Regions from separate parts of the Homo sapiens genome. Here regions 2 and 3 are each linked to region 1. Evidence: fine-mapped expression QTL. A gene starts in region 1. Each other region holds a variant in brackets. All regions are shown on one strand. Distances are between the middles of the regions. Region 1 holds the start of UBE4B (ubiquitination factor E4B). Region 2 overlaps UBE4B (ubiquitination factor E4B). Region 3 overlaps UBE4B (ubiquitination factor E4B).

The links. PIP is the estimated chance that this variant, and not a neighbour inherited with it, causes the effect. A credible set is the group of variants that fine-mapping cannot tell apart.
Region 2: its variant is the best candidate, but not a certain one, in a credible set for the expression of UBE4B in whole blood (TOPMed, PIP 0.50).
Region 3: its variant is the best candidate, but not a certain one, in a credible set for the expression of UBE4B in whole blood (INTERVAL, PIP 0.55).

The regions. Positions count from the first base shown.
Region 1 is chr1:10,029,538-10,037,717 of GRCh38, forward strand. UBE4B (ubiquitination factor E4B) reads left to right here and starts at 3,421. Exons shown (of 28, transcript NM_001105562.3): 1 at 3,421-4,157. The coding sequence starts at 4,134. RefSeq lists silencers at 3,039-3,428, 3,459-3,678 and enhancers at 3,193-3,847, 4,239-4,288.
Region 2 is chr1:10,104,031-10,112,210 of GRCh38, forward strand. UBE4B (ubiquitination factor E4B) reads left to right here. Exons shown (of 28, transcript NM_001105562.3): 6 at 1,486-1,714; 7 at 2,167-2,553. Among named protein-coding and RNA genes, the nearest start is that of UBE4B, 75 kb to the left of the region's middle. RefSeq lists an enhancer at 4,694-5,194. The variant C/T (reference allele first, on the strand shown) is at 5,025.
Region 3 is chr1:10,147,881-10,156,060 of GRCh38, forward strand. UBE4B (ubiquitination factor E4B) reads left to right here. Exons shown (of 28, transcript NM_001105562.3): 20 at 1,304-1,402; 21 at 3,446-3,681. Among named protein-coding and RNA genes, the nearest start is that of KIF1B, 59 kb to the right of the region's middle. RefSeq lists a silencer at 7,273-7,474. The variant AAAT/A (reference allele first, on the strand shown) is at 4,379.

The sequences.
Region 1 (8,180 bases):
ATGCTTGAAGGCAGCATGCTCATTAACAGTCATCACCACTCCCTAATCTCAAGTACCCAGGGACACAAACACTGCGGAGGGCTGCAGGGTCCTCTGCCTAGGAAAACCAGAGACCTTTGTTCACTTGTTTATCTGCTGACCTTCCCTCCACTATTGTCCTATGACCCTGCCAAATCCCCCTCTGCAAGAAACACCCAAGAATGATCAATAAAAAAAATAAATAAAAAAAAAGAAAAAAAAAAGAAGACAACCCAATTAAAAATGAACAGAGGGAAAAAGAAAAACAAAACAAAAAAACAAAAACACACACAAAAAAACAGAGGGCCAGGTGCAGTGGCTCACGCCTGTAATTCCAGCACTTTGGGAGGCCGATGTGGGTGGATCACTTGAGGTCAGGAGTTTGAGATCAGCCTGGCTAACATGGCAAAACCCTGTCTCTACTAAAAATACAAAAATTAGCCGGGCGTGGTGGCCCATGCTTGTAATCCCAGCTACTCGGGAGGCTGAGGCAGGAGAAGCGCTTGAACCCAGGAGGCAGAGGTTGCGGTGAGCCGAGATTGTGTCAGTGCACTCCAGCCTGGGTGACAGAGCAAGATTCTGTCTTAAAAAAAAGAAAAAAGAAAAGAAAGAGAAAAAGCCGGGCACAGTGGCTCATGCCTGTAACCCCAGCATTTTGGGAGGCGGAGGTGGGCGGATTACGAGGTCAAGAGATCCACGAGAGCATCCTGGCCAACGTGGTGAAATCTCATCTCTACTAAGAATACAAAAATTAGCCAGGCATGCTGGTGGGCGCCTGTAGGCCCAGCTACTTGGGAGGCTGAGGCAGGAGAATCACTTGAACCTGGGAGGTGGAGGTTGCAGTGAGCTGAGATCGCGCCACTGCACTCCAGCCTGGTGACAGAGCAAGACTCCATCTCAAAAAAAAAAAAAAAAAAAAAAAAGAACAGAGAATATGAATGAATAGGTATTTGTCCAAAGAAGATAAACCTAAGCAGATGTTCAACATCATTAGCTCCTAGGAAAATGAAAAACAAAACCACAAAGAGATACCATTTCACATCTACTGGTGTGGCTACAATAAAAAAGACAGACAAAAACCATTGTTGGTAGAGATGTAGAGAAGTTAGAACCCTCACACATTGCTGGTGGCAGTGCAGCTGCTTTGGAAAACAGTTTGACAGTTTCTCAAAAAGTCAAACATGTAATCCTGCAATTCCTCTCCTAGGTATATGCCTAAAAGGAATAAAAATAAAAACATATGTCCAAACAAACACTTGTACATGAATGTTTATAGCAGCATTACTCATAATTGTCAAAAGGTGGAAACAACCCAAATATCACTATGAATTGATAAACAAAATGCGCTACAGCAATACAGTGATACATTTGGCATTAAAGAAATGAAGTACAGATATATGCTACAATATGCGTGAACCTTGAAAACATATGCTAAGTGAAGGAAGCCAAACCCCAAAGGCCACACGGTGTATTGCTCCACTGATGTGAAATGTCCAGAATAGGCAAATTCACCAAGACAGAAGGTAGTTATCCTGCAGGAGTCTTTTTTTTTTGTGACGGAGTCTCGCTCTGTTGCCCAGGCTGGAGTGCAGTGGCACGATCTCGGCTCCTTGCAACTTCTGCCTCCCGGGTTCAAGCAATTCTTTGCCTCAGACTCCCAAGTAGCTGGGATTACAGGTGCCCGCCACCACGCCCTTCTAATTTTTGTATTTTGTATTTCACCATCTTGGCCAGGCTGGTCTTAAACTCCGGACCTCTTGATCCACCCGCCTTGGCCTCCCAAAGGGCTGGGATTACAGGCGTGAGCCACTGCGCCCAGCCCGGGAGTGACTGTTAATGGCTTTGAGGGTTTCTTTTTGGGATGATGAAAATGTTCTGAAATTGGACAGTGAGGATGACTGAACTGTGAACATAATAAAACCACTGTACACCTTAATTGGGTGAATTGTATGGTATGTAAATTAGATGGCAATAATGAGGTTAAAAAAAGTAAACTTTTAACATCAATGTCACCAGGGGTTCAAGTTCTGGCTTACACAGAATTCCTTTCCTGGAGAGCAGATAATATGCAAAGCCAGCAGTGATTTATTTTTACTCACAAATTCCTTACATATTTTTACTCACAAATTCCTTACATATCTAGTAGTCAGGTTCCTATTTTAAGCATGTAGCAAATACATTGTAACTCTTAATTCTGGAATGCAGTCTTTATGGCTTAGTGAGCCATCCAATCCACTTATAGTCTTCGTCAGCGGCAAAATCTGGAATTTCATGGTACTGTTACTTTGATCGCTCAACTTAGATTTATATTTTATAAATATATATATACATACATATATATATATTTTTTGAGATGGAGTCGCGCTCTGTCGCCCAGGCTGGAGTGCAGTGGCGCGATCTCGGCTCACTGCAAGCTCCGCCTCCCGGGTTCACGCCATTCTCCTGCCTCAGCCTCCCGAGTAGCCGGGACTACAGGCGCCCGCCGCCACATCTGGCTGATTTTTTGTATTTTTTAGTAGAGACGGGGTTTCACCGTGTTAGCCAGGATGGTCTCGATCTCCTGACCTCGTGATCCGCCCGCCTCGGCCTCCCAAAGTGCTGGGATTACAGGCGTGAGCCACCGCGCCCGGCCAAATATTTGTATTCTTGTGCACCGGAGGATGGTTTTCCCCCACTGACTCCAAACGTCTTCCTTGCATTTGCTGTGTACAATTCAGTGATTTGGGTCTCTCATCCATTTATACTTTCAAATTTTACCAATACTTTTTGAACACACTTAAAAAAAAAAAAACCCAGGAAGTATCTCTAAAAGGCCAAGGTAAAATAAAATGAATGGGAGTTCTTGTGTTCGAGTTTTCTTCCAACTGGGCTTTCCTGGAGGAGGTGGAAGAGTGTGTGGCAGATGTTTCAGAAAATGAGCGCTCAATACGGTAGATCACGCTCCCGGGGTCAAGGAGACGTTTTCCGTTTTCTTTTCCCTCGCTTAGGCGGCGGGCGCGCACAGTCCAGTGGGAGCGATGAGGTGTTTCTAGGCCCCCAAGTCACAGAAAAGCAGGCGATTGGGAACAACGGAGGCGCGGCGGGCCCCCGGGCCGCGGGCCAGCGCCACCTTCTGGTGGATCTTCCCCGACGCGAGTCTGGGAGTCGTCCCTCCCCTTGCCAGCCTACCTGGCTCAGGCCCGCCGCGCCCGCAGCCCCAGCGCGGTCGCCGTGGCAACGCCCCGCCCAGCCGCCAGCCTCCCTTTGCCCCTCCCCACGTCCGGCGCGGCTGCGCGGGACGGGGTGGGACGGAGGCGGGGAGAGGACGCAGGCGAGAGGAACTCGGCGGCGCGGCGCCCGCGGCCTATTGGCTGCCACGTCCCGGCGCCAGAAGCCCCGCCTCCCTGACGGGGGTCACGTGATCCCTTTCAAAGATGGCCGCCCTGTTGTTTTGATGAATAATACTTGGTGGGGCGAGGGGGAAAGAGTAGGGGTGGAGGGGTAGGAGGATTTACTCTTCCAGCGAGAGCTACGCGCATCCCATCCTCCCCCTCCCCCCTACCCGGGCTCCGGCGTGGAGGCGGGGCGTGGCCGGCCTGCTTTGGGAGGGGAGGGGCTTCCCTTACAGTGCTGGGCTCTGCCAGGACGGCTGTGGGGTCGCCTTACCTCGGGGTATCCACTCTGCAGTCGACCAGTTCCCGCCAGGAGCAAAGGGTAGGAAGGAGAGCAGGATCTGCTGTAGGAACGCAGCTACCGCGCCACTATCACGAAGAAACAGCAGGCTCGGGGCACGAGACGAACTGGAGACCGCGCTGCCTAGCTGGGTAACCTGGGAAGCAGAGGGTAATAAGTGGCGCCTTAAGACAACCCTGTAGCAGCAGCAGTGGCGGCCAAAGGAGGCTGCTCAGGGAACAAGCGGCTGTAGTAGTCTGTGGGGCGACTGGAGTGACCGAAGCCAAGGCAGTTTAGTGCCTCTCGTGTTCTTATTTTTTAACCTCTGACTATGCAATTCTGAAACCTCCCCCATTCGGGGGACCAGACAGCCTGATAGACACCTTCCACTCTCCTTCCTCCCGCCGTGGTCTCGAGAACAGAAGGATCTCTCCTTAACGCCTTTCACCATTAAGAGGAAAGCGATGGAGGAGCTGAGCGCTGATGAGGTGAGGAGGTTGGGGGACACCTTGAGGGATTAGTTGGCAACTCGTTAGCGCTTTGGACAGGGATGGTATTGCGCCAGTGCTGTCTGGCCTTTGGGCTTGGAGAAGGAACGGAGATGATATTTTCCAAGAATAACGTGACTCCCCGATAGGGTCTCTGGTTTTGTTCTCCTTTATTCTGTTGCCTTCTTTCTTCATTCTGAACTCCATTTGCTTCTTTCCGAGTGTTCTTTTAGGGTATGAACAAGAGGAGAGAGCATCTTGAGGTGTTTATTCTTTTCTTCAGGGTATGCGAACAAGAAGGGCGAGATTTACATGAAGTTAAAGTGTGTGTGTGTCTGTGTCTTCAGGAATTTAAAGAACAATTTTGGATGGAATGAGAATGTATGGTGGGTGAATATTTTTAAAGAAAGCATTTGAAATTCCAGATATGTGTGGTTATTGCACTGTATAAGCTTGATTAAACATATATTTTTGCTTGAGGGGTGGTTTACAGACAGATTCTTTGATATTTAACAAAATATGTATCTTCTCCACAGTTTAGAGAATTCCAGTTATATTCTGGTACTTAATAGACCACTAATGACTTCTGGCATTCTTCTGTTACATTCTATCTTTTCCTACTTCTTGAATCTTTCAAACTTGTGTTTTGCTGTAGCAGAGACTGAACGGGAAGCAAGTGGAAGCAAATGACTTTCTAAACTCTCTCCTGTTCTCATTTCTTAAAGGAGTTATACAGATCTACTTCTTGATGTTTTAAAGATTGTTTAATAAATTAGGTTGTTGTAAAAAAAAAAACAACCAAAAAGCAGTGGCAATTAGGGTACAAGGAATTTCCTATGATTCTACTGCCTTTTCTCTTCCTTTTTGCAAATTAGGAGCTTCCCTTTCAGGACCCCTACTGGCCATACCCTCTTTAGCCTACCTCCACATTTCTTCACTGGTTCATCATGTAAACTTCCCTACAGTATTAGGAAAGCAGTCATCCATCAAGTTGATTGTACTACAAGACTTCCATGCTCCAGTTTTAGCTACAGAGTACTTAGTGTGTTTACTTAGGGACTGAAATTCTCCTGGGATAGGACACGCAGTGGTGTGTTAAGGGTCAGGTAGGAAAGGAAGCAAATGATTTTGTTGATTGTGATACTTGGATACTTGGTTTGGAAAATCAGGACTGCCCATTCGGCGTTACTTTGTTTTTTTCGAATACAGCAGAAATGTAATCTTAAGTGAAGAGAATATTACACAGTTTCTTTCATTCGGTAGGAAATCTCCTTAGAATCGCTTTATTTTATGTGGGTTTTTTTTTGTTTGTTTGTTTTTTTGAGACGGAGTCTTGCTCTGTCGCCCAGGCTGCAGTGCAGTGGCGCGATCTCGTCTCACTGCAAGCTCCGCCTCCCGGGTTCACACCATTCTCCTGCCTCAGCCCCCTGAGTAGCTGGGACTACAGGCGCCCGCTACCACGCCCGGCTATTTTTTGTATTTTTAGTAGAGATGGGGTTTCACCATGTTGGCCAGGATGGTCTCCATCTCTTGACCTCGTGATGCACCCGCCTCAGCCTCCCAAAGTGCTGGGATTACAGGCGTGAGCCACCGCGCCTGGCCTGTTTTATGTGGTTTTTTAAAAGTTTCTCTACCTCCCCCGTTTTTCATTAATGTTAATTCTAGTGAGTAATTTCTCTTAAGGCAGAGATACTGTTTTTTTTTTTTTTTTTTTTTTTTTGAGGCGGAGTCTCGCTCTGTCGCCCAGGCTGGAGTGCAGTGGCGCTATCTCAGCTCACTGCAAGCTCTGCCTCCCGGGTTCACGCCATTCTCCTGCCTCAGACTCCGGAGTAGCTGGGACTACAAGCGCCCGCCACCACTCCCGGCTAGTTTTTTGTATTTTTTTGTGTTTTTAGTAGAGACGGGGTTTCACTGTGTTAGCCAGGATGGTCTCGATTTCCTGACCTTGTGATCTGCCCGCCTCGGCCTCCCAAAGTGCTGGGATTACAGGCGTGAGCCACCGTGACCGGCCAGAGATAGTTTTTTTATTTTTTTTTATTTTTTATTTATTTTATTTTATTTTTTTTGAGACGGAGCCTCGCTCTGTTGCCCAGGCTAGAGTGCAGTGGCGCGATCTCAGCTCACTGCAAAGCTCCGCTTCCCGGGTTCACGCCATTCTCCTGCCTCAGCCTCCCGAGTAGCTGGGACTACAGGCGCCCGCCACCACGCCCGGCTAATTTTTTGTGTTTTTAGTAGAGACGGGGTTTCACCGTGTTAGCCCAGGATGGTCTCAATCTCCTGACCTCGTGATCCGCCCGCCTCGGCCTTCCAAAGTGCTGGGATTACAGGTGTGAGCCACCGCGCCCGGCCGAGGTAGTTTTTTAGTAGTCCTTTACTCCTATAAATTACTTTTTTTTTTTTTTTTTGATGATCTGTTAATAGTCCTTGGTTTAGAGGCTTTTGCATACTTGAGTTTTCACCAAAAAATTCTTTTCAAACCAGTGAGGCATTACAGACCAGTGAAGATATTGTATAATCTAAAATGTGTCTCTTCACTTTCATCAGTCCTTGAGGAAGGTGTAACTTTTTTTTGTGACCATATGAGGAACACATGTAACCTTTGTGGAAGAAATAGAATAAACTTTTTTCAAGGTCAACAGAATATTAAAATAAATGAAAAAAATTAAATTCACTAATACAGGATCAATGTAAAATTATCTTCAACAAATTAGTTGTCCAGAACACAAAGGGCTGGTTCAATAACTGTTAATTTTACTCTCAGCAGAACCTAGAACAAATAATATTCGTTTGTTTTTAATTTAAAAAATCTTTTTTTTTTTTGTAGAGACGGGGGTCTTGCCATGTTTCCCAGGATGGTCTCAAACTCCTGACCTCAAGCGATCCTCCCACTTCAGCCTCCCAAAGTGGGAGCCAGACAAATAGTTATTTTGGGAAAAATATCTTTGAAGTTTTTCTTTTTAATTCAATTAAAAATTTTTGAGGTTAGGTAAGCAGTTCTCATGAGACATTTCCAAAGCTTTTGCCTTTGTATTGTTACTCTGTAGTTGAAAACTTGTGTCAGATATGGTAGGTGACATTGATTTGATTACAAAATAATACACTTATATTATTGAAACTTCAAGCTTATATTTCAGGGTTAAAACAGGCAAGGCGGTGATCTTTTAATCTAATTTAGGAAATTAGGTAAGGCAGAGTTTCATATTTTAACAAAATGAAAATGTATGATTATACAGTCCGTGAAAAAGGCTGGTATAACCAGACTGGTAGCTTTAGGAACTTTTAAATTATGTGCACTTTTTGGTCCCTGTCATAGATCACCTAGAATTCTTGTGCTTTTTAAATTTTTTTGTGAGACAGAGTTTCGCTCTTGTTGCCCAGGCTGGAGTGCAATGGCGCGATCTTGGCTCATTGCAACCTCTGCCTCCCGGGTTCAAGCGATTTTCCTGCGTCAGCCTCCCAAGTAGCTGGAATTACAGGCATGCGCCACCATACCCGGCTAATTTTGTATTTTTAGTAGCGACGGGGTTTCTCCATGTTGGTCAGGCTGGTCTTGAACTCCTGACCTCAGGTGATCTGCCTGCCTCGGCCTCCCAAAGTGCTGGGATTACAGGCATGAGCCACTGTGCCCGGTAGTCTTGTGCTTTTAAGTAGAGTACTTTAACTTCACTGTTGTTTGTTATTTATATAGTGTATTACAGTGAGTTCATTGCCCTATAGTTCACTGCCTATAGGTTCATTGCAGAACCATGACTAAGTTCATTCTCTTCAGGAACCTACATTCCAAGGCATCATTATTTACATTATATTAATTCTATAATCTACTCATGTGTTGTTTTTCGTATCTCAAGGTGGTGCTGTGAGTAGGTGGTGTGTTTATTTTTGAGATAGGGTCTGGCTCTATCGCCCAGTCTGGAATGCAATGGCATGATCTTGGCTCACTGCAACCTCTGCCTCCTGGGCTCAAGTGATCCTCCCACCTCAGCCTCCCAAGCTGAGACTACAGGCTCATGCCACCACACCTGG
Region 2 (8,180 bases), 74 kb after region 1:
ATTACAGGCTTGAGCCACCGAGCCTGGCCTTACCTCCTCTTATGAAGTATAGATATAGTGGGTGGTCTCCAGGGATCCTGAGAGAAGTGTTCTGTATGAGCTATACCTGCTTTAAGTGCCTATGAAGCCATGTATAGACGGTGGAATTGGTCTATTTGGTTAAATTGCTTAGCAAGATAGAACATAATGACATTTTGCTGTGTTTCTGATATTCCACTTTAAGAGGCCAAGCTTGTAACAAAATAATAAAACTCTTAGCAAGATATCAGCATCATAGGGCACTATCCTTTTTCTTTACAGTAGTCATTTGGAACGCAGAAGAGGTATGGGAGGTGTGCTGGAGTGGTTTTTTTGGCCTATCACTGGAATGTAACTTCCCTCATGGTAGGGATTTTTGTCTGTTTTACTCATTGATGTATCCCTAGAAGGATATCTTGCACAAAATAGTCCCTCAATAGATAGATTTTAAATGGATGCGTGAATATCAAGGAGATCACCTTTCTCTTTTCTATGCTGCCTATCTTCTGAGGAGGGAAAAAAAAAGTCCTTTGTATTTCTGGAGGATAGATAAGACTATTTCTGATTTTACTTATTAACTCTGCTAATGGAGCAGACCATGTATTTGAAACTCTGCTACTTGTTATTCTTATTATAAATCTTAAGATTCTCTGTCTTACACATGTAAGTGGCAAATCTGTCTTACACATGTAAGTGGCAATTTTAAATAACCAAATCAGATAAAATTTCCATGAGTTAAAACTTTTGTTAAAACAAGTGTCTTACACATGTTAAGTGGCAACTCTGTCTTACACATGTAAGTGGCAATTTTAAATAACCAAATCAGATAAAATTTCCATGAGTTAAAACTTTTGTTTAGTGGTATTTAAAATGTATCTAAAGACCAACAGTAAATCAACTGGGAGCTGCAAAGAATAAGAAGGAAGCTAGAATGTAGCATTTGCTCCTGAAAGCCACATGGTGACTAGATGTTGGACCCTTCATAAAATCTTTTGAACCTTGGACTTAATAGTTTTATTACTATCTATAAAACATATCTAGACTAAGAAATATTAACCCAGTTGCATTTGTAGTATAATAAAGTAACCTCTATAGTTGGGAGTAGCTTCTTTTTACAATTAATATACATCAGCGGTAACTCTCAATGACTGTACCCCAACTTTCTTTTTAATAAACTTTTAATTTTGGAATAGTTTCAGTTAGTGCAGGGAGTTCCTATATATACTTTACCCAGTTTCCCCTGACGTTAATATCTTATATAACCATGGTACATTTGTCAAAACTAAGAAATTACTACTAACTAAACACAAGGCTTTATTTAGGTTTTCCACTAATATCCTTTTACCATTCCAGAATCTAATCCAGGATACTGCATCGAACCATTTGGGGTCAGCTGGCTTATTCAAGGGCTGTGTAACCTGTGTTCGAACTGTGTGTAACCTGTTCTTTGTTCTGCCTTTCCAACAGTATTCTCCGATTTTAAGGACTTGATTGGCCAGATTTTAATGGAAGTGCTAATGATGTCCACTCAGACCAGAGATGAAAACCCATTTGCCAGTCTGACAGCCACATCACAGCCAATTGCTGCAGCAGCACGGTCACCAGACAGAAATCTCTTGCTAAACACTGGCTCCAATCCAGGAACAAGCCCCATGTTCTGCAGCGTGGCTTCCTTTGGTGCCAGCTCTTTGTCTAGGTCAGTGTGGTTCTCTTTGCACATCTTACTGGTAGTAAAATAACTGTGAACTACGTAGGAGAAGGGAATGTTTGTTGACAGTGTTAATCAGTGTCATACAGGGTATGGCATATATCATATTTGGGGAGGTGGATTTAGTCATTGGAAGTGGAATTCTCTTTTCTAGATTATTATTTTTTGGCTCTCTATGGTTAAGATATTGCTAGATGAAATTTTAGAAGCAGTTGGCTGTGTATACTACATCATTCTTCGAATGGGGACTTTATCGTCTTGTAAGTATAGCCTCTAGATCAATAGGGCAATTAGATTATAATTATTTAGATGTTTATCTGCTAGATATACTTGAACTGAAATGATTCTCCTTTAAAAGCTTGATATTTTCTGTTTTAGTTAGTTATCTCAAGTTTTTCTTTGATTTTTCTCTTCTTTCCTCCCTTTCTCAACTAATTTAGCCTCTATGAAAGTAGTCCGGCTCCCACTCCCAGTTTCTGGAGCTCTGTTCCCGTGATGGGCCCGTCTCTTGCCTCACCTTCCCGTGCAGCCAGCCAGTTGGCTGTGCCTTCCACTCCCCTCAGTCCTCACAGTGCAGCCTCTGGAACTGCTGCGGGAAGCCAGCCTTCATCCCCGCGGTATCGCCCCTACACTGTCACTCACCCATGGGCGTCCTCAGGCGTCTCCATTCTGTCGAGCTCCCCAAGTCCCCCTGCCCTCGCCAGTAGCCCCCAAGCAGTGCCCGCCAGCAGTTCCAGACAGAGGCCCAGCAGCACGGGTCCACCCCTACCACCCGCCTCACCCAGTGCCACGAGCAGACGCCCCTCCTCCCTGAGGATCTCTCCTAGGTATTTATCCCACAGGAGAGTTGCATGTGTGTTTGCGGTGCAGGGAAAGGAGATTAACACGGTTTGGAAGAAGTGCTGTGTGACACTGACTCTGTTAAATTGTTGTTTTGGGTTATTAACCTGTGTGGCTAACTAGTTTGGTAGGCACGTACTCTGAGTCCATGCTTCTGCCAGGCTCTAATCATGCTGGAAAGTTTGGGTTGCTCTATTCTATTGTGAATCCCTTTCTTCCCTTTGAGAGTTGGGGCACACAGGAACCCTTTTTGGCCTTTTGTCCTGTTGCCAGTGGTAGTTGAAATGCTATCAGACCAAGCAGGTGTGGGAGCAAATCTGGGCCTGGTGTTTTTTACTTCTGGTGAGTGGGGTGGGTCGGTTCATGTCCTGACGTGTTGAGTTTTAGTTATATGTAAGTTCAGTCTCTTAGAAGGAAGCAGTATCAGAATTCCACTAATCCAGTGGCCCCTTCTCTCAAATGTACCTGTATGTGTTTCTATAATTTAGGTGAATTATGTTTCTGCATGTCAGTGGCCAAAAGTTTTAGTGTATGGTTTATTTAAAAGGACAGCAGTTGCAAAAGCTTCTCCCCGTCTTGTTTTTTCTTTGTTCTCTGATGGCCTTTTTTGCTTTTGTTGTGGTAGTATGTACGACAATCCTTTCTCCTTCCTCTTCCTCGCACTTTCTGGGGACAGTAGTGATGAAGAAGATGAAGAAGAAGATGATGATGATGGTGATGGTGATGATGAAGGTGGTGGTGGTGGTGATGATTTTTCTTGTGTCCAGTTTGGGTCCAGGTATCAGAGGAATGGAGTCTTACCCCTGCATGTGCGTAGATGCTTAGGAACTAACTTCTATAAGCTCTAACAAGGGGCGTGCTTTGAATCCAGGCAGGATAGGGTCAAATGAGGTGGGCTCCAGAGTATATTGATGTGTTCAGACCTTCTCATGGGATAAAGTAGCACATAGGAGAATTTTCTTTTTTTCTTTCTTTCTTTCTTTTTTTTTTTTTTTTTTGAGGCAGAGTTCTGCTCTTGTTGCCCAGGCCGGAGTGCAATGGCGCAATCTCGGCTCACGGCAACTTCCTCCTCCTGGGTTCAAGTGATTCTCCTGCCTCAGACTCCCAAGTAGCTGGGATTACAGGCACCCGCCACCATGCCCGGCTAATTTTTGTATTTTTAGTAGAGACAGGGTTTTGCCAGGTTGGCCAGGCTGGTCTCGAACTCCTGACCTCAAGTGATCTGCCCGTCTTGGCCTCCCAAAATGTTGGGATTACAGGAGTGAGTCACTGTGTCTGGCCCCAGAATTTTCAGAGTTGTCGCCTGGCAAGTTTGGAGGAAAACTTTATGTATAATCATTTTTCAAAAGCATGAAAACAGATTAAAGATCAGTCATCAAGTTTATCCACCTTTAGATCTAAAATGAGGGACCCTTCATTTATCTATTGCGAGAATGTTATTGTGAACTACCAGATGTGACAACTTGTACTCTCTGAGGCATGTTTTCTTAAGTACAGTTGCATGAATTGCTGCTATTTAGTAACGGGAGAGGGGCTGGGATTTGGGGGAGGTGTGTGTGTGTGTGTGTGTGCGTGCGTGCTCCCTTCCCACCCCCTCCCAGCCTCCACCGCCCCCCTGTTCACCCCCATTGAGCTCAGTCTGGGCAATCCATCGAAGAACATATGAGGTCATACCATCTGCATAACTGTGACTTTGCTTTCATGTCTAGCCTTAAATTTCTCTTAGCACCTCCTGGACCTCAGTGAAGCCAGACCCCATTTGTTTAAAGAGCCTTTGAAATGACCGCAGAGGCTGAAACATAGTTCCGGATGTTGCTGAATGTTTACCCCTGGAAACCGAGTGAAAAGCACTACTTGGGTTGTGTAGGTGACTTTGAGCAAGAGAATATAATAGCACCTTCTTTCTAATCCTCTGACTCATTGTCTTACAATTTTGCTCTTAAATTGAAGTTTCCTGTGGACTGAGTTGGTGTTTGTGCCCAGCACTGTTCAAAAATAACTCCAGGCTATAAATAGAGACTGCAGTAGGAGTTAGGTACACTTCATTCAATTCGATGGTGTTCAGAAGAATCATTAGAGAATACGTAAAGAGACAGAGGAATGTTGATGCAAGGTTGAATATTGATTCAGGAAGGTTGATATTTGTATTACGCTGAACATTTTATCACCATTTCTCAAGTAAATTTCCCAAAGGTGAAAGTGTCTTTTTCACGTAGATAAAATCCTATTGCATGATTATAGTAATAAAGCAGGCATCCTTCCTAGGAACCAGTTTCCACATGGTAAAAGTGCTGTGTTACCTGTTTTACTGTAAATTTTCTGTGGGAGAAATTCTCTCTCCCTGGCCTATTTAGTTGTGACTTTCTCTAACAACCGTATCAGATTGTGTGCTGCTTTTACTAATACCTCTCTTTCTGGACTTCTAACACCCCAGCCTTGCCTCAGATCTAAATTCTCT[C/T]CCTACTAGGAGGAATAAAATGTACCAAGTGTATAAAAATAGCTGCAAATACTCATGGAGCATTGTGCGCCAGATGTGGTGTCAGCTCTGTCCATGTATCAGCCCCTTTACTCCTCGCTGTAGCCTGCTGTGAGGAAGTGGCAGGGGGAACGGGGGGGCCGGGGGGACAGACAAGAGGGTCAAAATCATAGAAATGCATTCAGACTTGAGCATCCTGAATCCAGACTCATGTTCACCACCGCACCGTGCTGCCACCCACTTTTCCATTTCTGCCCAAATAGGTCTTGTTTGTTCTTGTTCCTTACTACTGTTTTTGCTGCCGAGAGTCTGTGCATCTACTCGGTTCCTTTGGCAGGGAAGTGCCAGCATTTCACTCCTTAATTACAAAATGCCATCCCAGTCAGTTGATATGTCCCTTGTTGGCCGTTACAGTGAACTGTGATCATCCAGATTTTGGCAGCTTATAGGTTCTTAGTTGATATAAAAAAGAATGCCAAAGCATGGGTAAAAATACATGACATAACTATGTAAACAAGTAGAAGAACTTAGGGTTCTTCTAAGTAGGGTCAGAGCCAAGATGAGCTAGCAAAAAACCTTGTTACTTTTTTTTTTTTGAGACGGAGTCTTGCTTTGTCACCCAAGCTGGAGTGCAGTGGAGCGATCTCGGCTCACTGCAACCTCCACCTCCTGGGTTTAAGCAATTCTCGTGCCTCAGCCTCCCAAGTAGCTGGGATTACAGGTGCATGCCACCACACCTGGCTAATTTTTGTATTTTTAGCAGAGACAGGATTTCACCATGTTGGCCAGAGTGGTCTCAAACTCCACACCTCAGGTGATCTGCCCACCTCGGCCTCCCAGAGTCTCAAACTTCTGACCTCAGGTGGTCCGCCCACCTCGGCCTCCCAAATTGCTGGGATTACAGGCGTGAGCCACTGCGTCCAGCCAAAACCTTGTTACTTTGAGCAGTCAGCAAAGAAATAGTACTTTATCCTTCCCCCTTTCTCATTGATCTTCCCAGAATTTTTTTACTCTGAAGTAAGCAATTTTAACACTCACTTCTTGCCTGGTAAGACTAATGTCATAGAAGAAAGAATCATCAGGGGTTGGATCGCTCTCTCCATCTGCTGGCCCAGTGGATTCGATGTCTTATAAATCTTTTTGGAAGTAGTTGGGACATACATTTATATGTTAAGTATTTATAGGGGTGATGATAAGGATTAATTTTAAAAAGGTAAAACATTCCTTCTGTAATGTTTTGCAGACTTCTGAGAAAAGAACTGTTTGAGATATAAAGAACTGCTTTTTGCGCGAGTGGCATAAATGAGTGAAGTGAGAATTACCGTGTGTGAAAAGATAACTGTTGGGTGGTGGGCTTAATGCATGGGTGATGAAATAATCTGTACAGCAAACCTCCTGTAACAGACCTTCATATGTACCCCCAAACCTAAAATAAAAGTTAATAAAAATCAATAAATCAATAAATAAAAGCTGGAAGTTGATCTGAAAAAAAAAATTACCCCATGGTAAAGGTACCGCAGAAGTTATCCGGAGGAAAATGTTTCTAATTGTTTCCTAGGAAGTTGATGACTAGAAAGAAATTTGGTGGTTTTGTGTTTGTTTTTTAACTGTAAATATTTCAGTGAAGGAGGTCAAATCTTGAATGTCACAAGCCTTATATGAGTAGAGAAAGGGAAAATTAGTGAATAGTGAAAAACGTTGACATTGACTCTCCTGTTTTTGCTGATTGTCACTGCTTGGGGTTGAAACATAGAAACAGTGGAAAAGAAATCATTCTGGCTGGGCACAGTGGCAAGCACAGGTAATCCTATCACTTTGGAGGCCGAGGTGGGAGGCTTGTCTGAGCCCACGAGTTAGAGGCTGCAGTGAGTCGTGATCATGCCACTGCACTCCAGCCTGGGTGATAGAGTGAAACCCTGTCCCTCTCTTCTCTCTGTCTCTCTCTGTCTCTCTCTGTCTTTCTCTGTCTCTGACACACACACACACACACACACACACACACACACACACACACACACACAGTCTTTCCACCATATCTATCCCTAAGATCCCCCAGTGATTTCCCTTCTCACACAGAGTAAAATCCAAAGCCTCTGACCATGGTCTACAAGGCCCTGCATCTCACGTACACTCCACATACTACACACACACACACCACGCGCTACACACACACCCCCACACCAAGCATACATGCACATACGTGCCCCATTCTAACTTAATCTCCCTCTACTTGTCTACTTCCCCTAACTCATGTACTGGACTCCTGTTCTTTGCACGTAATACTCCCTCCTGCCTTAGGCCTTTGTACTTGTTTCTCCCCTTCGGACCACTCTCCCCACTAGACAGCTGTATGGCCGGCTCCCTCACTCTCCTCAGGTCTATCAGAGGGTGGCCACTGACCTCATTGTCTCAAACATTATATAGAACACACACGCACCCATGCACGCACACCGTCGTTCTTCATCCGCCTGGTTCCGTGCACTATTCCAGGACCTACAGCAGTGCCTAGAACACAGAACATCCATTAGCAACATTTGTTTAATGAATTTATAGTGCCTAAACCTGCACAACTCTGACTTTGCCTTGCTATTAGAAAATGCAAGGCCAGGCGCGGTGGCTCACACCTGTAATCCCAGCACTTTGAGAGGCCGAGGTGGGCGGATCACTTGAGGTCAGGAGTTCAAGACAAGCCTGGCCAACATGGCGAAACCTCTTCTTTACTAAAAATACAAAAATTAGCTAGGCATGATGGCATGTGCCTATAATCCCAGCTACTAGAGAGGCTGAGGCAGGAGAATCACTTGAATCCGGGAGGCAGAGGTTGCAGTGAGCCAAGATCACACCACTGCACTCCAGCCTGGGCAACACAGCAAGACTCTGTCTCAAAAAAAAAAAAAGAAAGAAAATGCAAATTCCAAAGGCTGCATTTGAGAAGTCAGTAAATGGGAGAGTAATTATAGAAGAAACTGAAACAGAGTCGCTTTAAGAGCAAGTTTTGTTAGTGCATTTAAAATGGGATTCAGTCTGCACAGATCGGATGCACGTGTAATCCCTAGGCACATTTACATTGTGTTTTCAGAAGGATGCAGCTCTGTTTCTATTATGTGAAGTAATTACTTGGTTACATTGGACTGCTAA
Region 3 (8,180 bases), 120 kb after region 1:
GATGTTGGTGAGATTGGCCCAAGACCCGTGAAGGCGTGGAAAATATTATTTAAAATATGTGTGTAGGCCGGGTGCGGTGGCTCACGCCTATAATCCCAGCACTTTGGGAGGCCAGGGCGGGTGGATCACATGGTCAGGAGATCGAGACCATCTTTGCTAACACGGTGAAACCCCGTCTCTACTAAAAATACAAAAAATTAGCTGGGCGCTGTGGCGGGTGCCTGTAGTCCCAGCTACTCGGGAGGCTGAGGCAGGAGAATGGCGTGAACCTGGGAGGCGGAGCTTCCGGTGAGCGGAGATCACGTCTCTGCACTCCAGCCTGGGTGACGAGCAAGACTCCATCTCAAAAAAAAAAAAAAATGTGTGTAGCTCTGTTGTTTCCGTTTGAGTTGCACAAAATGACCAAATAGGACCTTTTTATTTCCTTCCCATTTTACTTATTGCATTAACCTTAGCAAGAAGTCAAGAAGGCTGGGCGTGGTGGCTCACGTCTGTAATCCCAGTACTTTGGAAGGCTGAGGCAGGCGGATCACTTGAGGTCAGGAGTTCGAGACCATCCTGGCCAACGTGGTGAAACACCGTCTCTACTAAAAATACAAAAATTAGCCAGGTGTGGTGGTGGGCGCCTGTAATCCCAGCTACTCGGGAGGCTGAGGCACAAGAATTGCTTGAACCCAGGAGGCAGAGGTTGCAGTGAGCCGAGATCACGCCACTGTACTCCAGCCTGGGTGACAGGGTGAGACTCTGTCTCAAAAAAAAAAAAAAAATCAAGAAAAGGGCCAGGTGTGGTGGCTCACACCTGTAATCCCAGCACTTTGGGAGGCCAAGATGGGTGGATCACTTGAGGTCAGGAGTTCGAGACCAGCCTGGCCAACATGGTGAAACCCTGTCTCTATTGAAAATACAAAAATTAGCCAGGTATGGTGGCACGTGCCTGTAATCTCAGCTATTCGGGAGGCTGAGACATGATAATCGATTGAACTGGGGAGGTGGAGGTTGCAGTGAGCCAAGATTGCACCACTGCACTCCAGCCTGGGTGACAGAGTGAGACTCCATCTCAGGGGAGAAAAAAAAGAAATCAAGAAAAGGAAAACATTTCACACATACCCTTGCATATGCACTGTCTTCATTATTCCCTGTTCATTTCTGGTTGTAGTTTCTTTGCCTACATATTTATTACATAGTATTACAGAATGATTTTCTTCCCCAAATGAAATACTTATCCGATGGTAATGTAATACTCCTTGTAGTTTGATGTACCATAATTTCATTTAATAAATTGTCCTTTTTTTCTCTTTGACAGTATAACACTGCCTTTAAATTCAGATGTCCCCAAGGTATTTGCAGCGTTGCCTGAGTTTTATGTAGAAGATGTTGCAGAATTTTTATTTTTTATTGTACAGTAAGTGCCTTTAATATTTTACATAGTTCTAATATGTTTTTATGCATAATAGTATAATATTCTGAGCTATGTTGCAAACCTCCATTTCATGCCTGAAATTTGATGTAACTGTTTTAACTGAATGCTGCCTAGAGACTGGAAAAAATAAATCCAACTGTGGCATCAGTCCAATTCCAATAATATCTCAAAGACAGAGGCAGGATTAACAGTGCAGATAATGTATTCCTTGAAAATTGAGTTGAATTTCTAATAGTTAAATATGTGTTTCTGAGCAACAGAAGGAGGAAACAGTTTATAAATGTCTGAATGAACATCCCAAAACCAGAAATATCCACATCTATATTTTGTACTAAAATTTGTCTCAATTGTAAAATTGGAGAATGCTTACCAAGAAATGGTTTGAATTTCTAACTGGTATTGTAGGGTTTTAATTTTTTTTTCAAATCCTTATTTGGTTTATCAAATTAACATTTTATTTCTAAAACATTACAGGTTAGAAGAATTACAATTTCAATCCCTTGGCACCATGATAGCACCTATGACTAGCTGAGGGAGTGGTATGTGAAGTCTATTGTGAAAAGTAAAAGTCATGCTGGGCACTGTGGCTCATGCTTGTAGTCCCAGACATGCAGGAGGATTGCTTGAGCCTAGTTCAAGACCAGTCTGGGCAATGCAGCAAGTCTGCATCTCTTTAAAAAATAAATAAATAAATAGTATAGGTCCCCAGTCACAGAATACAAATTGTGAAAGTTTTGTAACAAACAACAGGAAAAAAACAAAATTAGTATAAATGATTTTAAAATAAGGGCCAAAAGTAAATGGAGCAAGTTAATATTGCTGTCATAAAAGCTGCCTTTAAAAAAAAGCCCAAATCAAGGCAGAGGTTGCAATGAGCAGAGATCATGCCACTACACTCCAACCTGGGCAACATACACAAAAAAACCCAAATCATTGGTGACACGTGATTTTGATTGGTATGAAATTTTAAAAGTGACTCAAAAACGTGGTTTATTTGTTGAAAAACCAACCTTGGAATTTAAGCAACTCAAGTCACATTTTAAAATTTGTTCTATGCACAGTGATACAAAAGACACCTATTTGAAAAATTTCATTTATTCTCATTTTCAGCAGAGATTAAAAAAAAACTATCAAAATTTTTATGTTTTGGTAGTGATGATCTTTTGTGAAGTTTATCTGATTTGATCATAGGTTTTGTTTATAGTTAATATAACATGCTACAGCCAGTAACCATGTTTGGTTTTAAATCTGTCTTGTTACAGTGTGAATAGTCACTGTAGGCTGGGTGCAATGGCTCATGCCTGTAATCCCAGCACTTTGGGAGGCCAAGGTGGGCAAATCACGAGGTCAAAAGATCAAGACCATCCTGGCCAACATGGTGAAACCCCATCTCTACTAAAAATACAAAAGTTAGCTGGGCATGGTGGCAGGCACCTGTAGTCCCAGCTACTCAGGAGGCTGAGGCAGGAGAATCGCTTGAACTTTGGAGGCGGAGGTTTCAGTGAGCCGAGATTGTGCCACTGCACTCCAGCCTGGGCAACACAGCGAGGCTCCATCTCAAGAAAAAAAAAAAAAAATAGGCTGGGCGCAGTGGCTCATGCCTGTAATCCCACCATTTTGGGAGGTCGAGGCGGGCGGATCACGAGGTCAGGAGATCGAGACCATCCTGGCTAACATGGTGAAACCCCATCTCTACTAAAAATACAAAAAAAATTAGCCGGGCATGGTGGCAGGTGCCTGTAGTCCCAGCTACTCGGGAGGCTGAGGCAGGAGAATGGCGTGAACCTGGGAGGCGGAGCTTGCAGTGAGCCGAGATCGCGCCACTGCACTCCAGCCTGGGCGACAGAGCGAGACTCTGTCTCAAAAAAAAAAAAAAGTCACTGTAAACTGAATGAGTTCAAGGGCACTCCCAAACCTACTTATCCTGCCTTCCCCTCCTCACTTACTGACACCAGCCTTCACCCAAGATGAGTTTCTCAGCAGTTTCTCAGCGGTCTCTTTCTTGCTCTTCTTGCCTCTGTTCAGATACTCTCCCCAGGCGCTTTATGAGCCCTGTACTCAGGATATTGTGATGTTCCTTGTTGTGATGTTGTGCAACCAGAACTACATCCGAAACCCATATTTGGTGGCCAAACTGGTAGAAGTCATGTTTATGACCAACCCTGCTGTTCAGCCACGAACCCAGAAGTTTTTTGAAATGATTGAGAACCATCCTCTCTCCACCAAGTTGTTGGTACCTTCCCTGATGAAGTTTTATACAGGTAGGTTGCTGGAACACAGTGTAGCACATGGCAGGCCAACTTAGGTAAGGTCATCTAAAGCTAGTGGACGACGTTGCTCTAAGCCTGTTACCTAATATCCTGCTACCTGTGTGTATAGCCTACTAACCTGTGGCCTGCAGAGGATGTACTTTTGGTTCTTCTTGCCCTGAGTAGTTAGGAATAGGACAACCATTCCACCTACTGGTCTCTGATGATTCAGCAGGAACTACTGAAAGTCAGATGATTGGCACCGAGACCCAGGGTATCAAGAGCACAAGTTGGTAGTGTTATCTGAATGGAATTATCTGGTTCATTTTACCTTTGAACTTACAGCATTTGTTTTTTAACACTATCCTATAACCCACTTTCCAAAGTGTGGGTGAAACAGGGAGCTTGTTAAAAATGCATATTCTTGGTCCGGGTGCGGTGGCTCATGCCTGTAATCCCAGCACTTTGGGAGGCCGAGGCGGGCGGATCACAAGGTCAGGAGTTCAAGACCAGCCTGGCCAGTATGGTGAAACCCCATCTCTACTAAAAATAGAAAAAAAAATTAAATTAGCCGGGCATGGTTGCAGGTGCCTGTAGTCCCAGGGCGGTTGAGGGAGGAGAATTGCTTGAACCCGGGAGGCAGAAGTTGCAGTGAGCCGAGATCCCGCCACTGTATTCCAGCCTGGGCAAGAGAACAAGACTCCGTCTC[AAAT/A]AATAATAATAATAATAATAATAATAATAATAATACCACTTTTCACCTGTCAAATTTATTTCTTAAGTTGAAAATACCTGGTACAAACATGGTTGTGGAGAAGTAAGCTAACCTGCAAAAAAACCTGCTTAATCTACCCTATAGCCAGTGTGCAGATTTAGTGCTATGAAACTCTCATGAGAATGCAAATTTAAAGCCTTTCTGAAAGGCAGTTTAGCAGCCCACACCAAGAGCCTTAAAAATGCTTTTATCGGGGCCAGGTGCGGTGGCTCATACCTGTAATCCCAGCACTTTGGGAGGCCGAGGCGGGTGGATCACCTGAGATCAGGAATTTGTGACCAGCCTGGCCAACATGGAGAAACCCCGTCTCTACTAAAAATACAAAAATTAGCTGGGTGTGGCGGGCGGCGCCTGTCATCCCAGCTACTCAGGAGGCCGAGGCACGAGAATCGAGTGAACCTAGGAGGCAGAGGTTGCATTGAACTGAGATCACACCAGTGTGCTCCAGCCTAGGAGAAAGGGCAAGACTCCGTCTCAAAAAAGAAAAAAAAAAAGCACTGGGATAACAAATAGTAGGTGCAGGAAGTAGCCATCTTCTATCCCTCAGTCTGGGGACCCAAGGGAAGAGCCTGGGGATCTCAGAACCCAGCTGCCCTGATGAGGGCTTGGACGGAGCTAGGACCCAGTCCTCTGTGGAAGGCCCTTGGCCAGTAGGTGCTGGTGTCTCTCTCGGGGGTTGTGCACGGTTGCTAGCTCTGGGGGTACGAGACAAAGCTGAAAATTGGAACCAACTGCTACTGCTGACAGTAAGTGCAAGGTCCTAAGTCCCTTGTTTCTCCTTCAGTTTTCCAGTTCTCCTGCAGCACCCCCTATTGGCAACCCTAGAGAGGGCGGGCTGCCAAAGGAAAGATTCTGCAGTGCCAGCCCCAGAATCACAAAGCCAACTACAAAGAGTGCATGTGGGCTGGGCACGGTGACTCCAGCTAATAATCCTAGCACTTTAGGAGGCCAAGGTGGGAGGATTGTTTGAGCCTAAGAGTTGGAGACCAGCCTGGGCAACATGGCGAGACCCCATCTCTACGAAAAATTTAAAAATTAGATGCCTGTTGTCCCAGCTACTAAGGAGGCAGAGGTGGGAGGAAGGCTTGAGCCCAGGAGTTCAAGGCTGCAGTGAGCTATGATCTTGCTGCTGCGTTCCAGCCTGTGAAACAAAGCAAGACCCTGTTTCTAAAAAAAAAAAAAAAAAAAAAAAAAAAAGGGTAAAAAGACTGGGTTTCGGCCAGGCACAGTAGCTTACACTTGTAATCCCAGCACTTTGGGAGGCCAAGGCAGTGGATCACCTGAGGTCAGGAGTTCGAGACTAGCCTGACCAAAATGGTGAATCCTAGTCTCTACTAAAAGTAAAAGGCCGGGCGTGGTGGCTCACGCCTGTAATCCCAGCATTTTGGAAGACTGAGGTGGGTGGATCACAAGGTCAAGAGATCGAGATGAGCCTCGCCAACATGGTGAAACCCCGTCTCTACTAAAAATACAAAAATTAGGCCTGGCACAGTGGCTCACGCTGTAATCCCAGCACTTTGGGAGGCTGAGGTGGGCGAATCACCTGAGGTCGGGAGTTCAAAACCAGCCTGACCAACATGGTGAAACCCTGTCTCTACTAAAAATACAAAATTAGCCTGGCATGGTGGCACATGCCTGTAATCCCAGCTACTTGGGAGGCTGAGGCAGGAGAATCACTTGAACCCGCGAGGCAGAGGTTACGGTGAGCCAAGATCGCGCCATTGTAATCCAGCCTGGGCAACAAGAGCAAAACTCCGTCTCAAAAACAAAAATTAGCTGGACATGGTGGCATGTGCCTGTAGTCCCAGCTACTCGGGAGGCTGAGGCAGGAGAATCTCTTGAACCCGGGAGGCAGAGGTTGCAATGAGCCAAGATCGCGCTACTGCACTTCAGCCTGGTGACAGAGCAAGACTTCATCTCAAAAACAAAACAAAAAACAAAACAAAACAAAATTAGCCGGGTGACGCATGCGTGTAATCCCAGCAACTTGAGAAGCTGAGGCAGGAGAATAGCTTGAACCCGGGAGGTGGAGGTTGTAGTTAGCCGAGATCTAAAAAAATTTTAAAAAAAAAGAGTGGATTTGGAGCTACGAGACAACAGCTGAATAGCTATACTCTGACATAAGAATTTAATTTCTTGAAATTTATTCAATGGAAATAATTACGAATGTTTGTAAGTGATGTTCTCCACAGCATTATTTATAAAGCAGTGCAGTGAAAATAATAAAAACAACTGGCCGGGCTCAGTGACTCACGCCTGTAATCCCAGCACTTTGGGAGGCTGAGGCAGGAGGATCACCTGAGGTCAGGAGTTGGAGGCTTAGTCTGGCCAAAATGGTGAAACCCCGTCTCTACTAAAAATACAAAAAAATTTAGCTGGGCGTAGTGGTGCACACCTATAGTCCCAGCTTCTCTGGAGTCTAAGGCAGATGAATCACTTGAATCAGGGAGGCAGAGGTTGCAGTGAGCCAAGATCGTGCCATTGCACTCCAGCCTGGGCTACAAGAGCAAATCTCCATCTCAAAAAAAAAAAAAAGGAATGTAGGGAAGGACATATACCAAAATAGTAACAGCGCATTGGTTATTTTTGAATGGTAGCATTATAAATAGTTTTTATTTTTATTTTATTATCTGAACTTCTTAATTTTTCTACAGTAAACATGTATTGTTAGTAGTAAAGACAAAACAATTTTAGTTAAATTTATTTTGTAGTCAGTGTTCTGGGCCTGTCACTGTGGCTTCAGGAGAGAGAGAGAGAGAGAGAGTGTGTGTGTGTGTGTGTGTGTGTGTTTGTGTATTTGTGTTTACACAACAGAACTGGGCCTGTTGCCTATAAGACGAGTGCTGGGCCTAGTGGAGTCCTGCTGGGAATGTTCCAGAAGGAATTGGGTGGGGGTTGTTCTCTCTTTCCTCTTTGCCATGTGTGCCCTCTGGCCTGGACCACCTCTTCAGTCATAGATGGATGACATCTGTACTAATAATAGCCACCACTTATTGAATGCTTACTAATCCTTTCACTTAATCCCCACGGCAGTCCTAAAGATAGTACTATAAATACATCCACTTTACAAATGAGGAAACTGAAGCTTAAAAGGGTCAAGAAGCTTGCTGAAGGTCAGTGGCTAGCAAGTGGCAGCAACCTCGCAGATGCCCTTTAGCACAGGTCCCCCTGGCTACTGTGCTGGTCTTCCTACAGCTACTAAGGGACCGGTGTGAGGGTACCCCTGAGGGAGGCATCACAGACATAGTCCCCAGTGCTCATCACCTCCATGTGAAGACCTGGCTGATTAGGTCCTGGTCCCTGAGCAGATGGGACCCTCAGATATAAATTAAAAGTTGCCACACACAAGATCAGTATGTGGAACAAGCTCCTCTTAACACCACAGAGATAGTATTCTAGCTTAGAAAATGCTCAAGTTAGGCTGGGCGTGGTGGCTCACGCCTGTAATCCTAGCACTTTGGGAGTCCGAGACAGGTGAATCACTTGAGGCCAGGAGTTTGAGACCAGCCTGGCCAACATGGCGAAACCCTGTCTCTACTAAAAATACAAAAGATTATCCGGGTGTGGTGGTGGGGGCCTGTAATGCCAGCTACTTGGGAGGCTGAGGCTGGGGAATTGCTTGAACCGGGACCTGGGAGGTGGAGGTCGCAGTGAGCCAAGATCTTGCCACTGTACTCCAGCCTGGGCTACAGAGTGAGACTCCATCTCAAAAAAAAAAAAAAAGAAAGAAGGCAGCAAG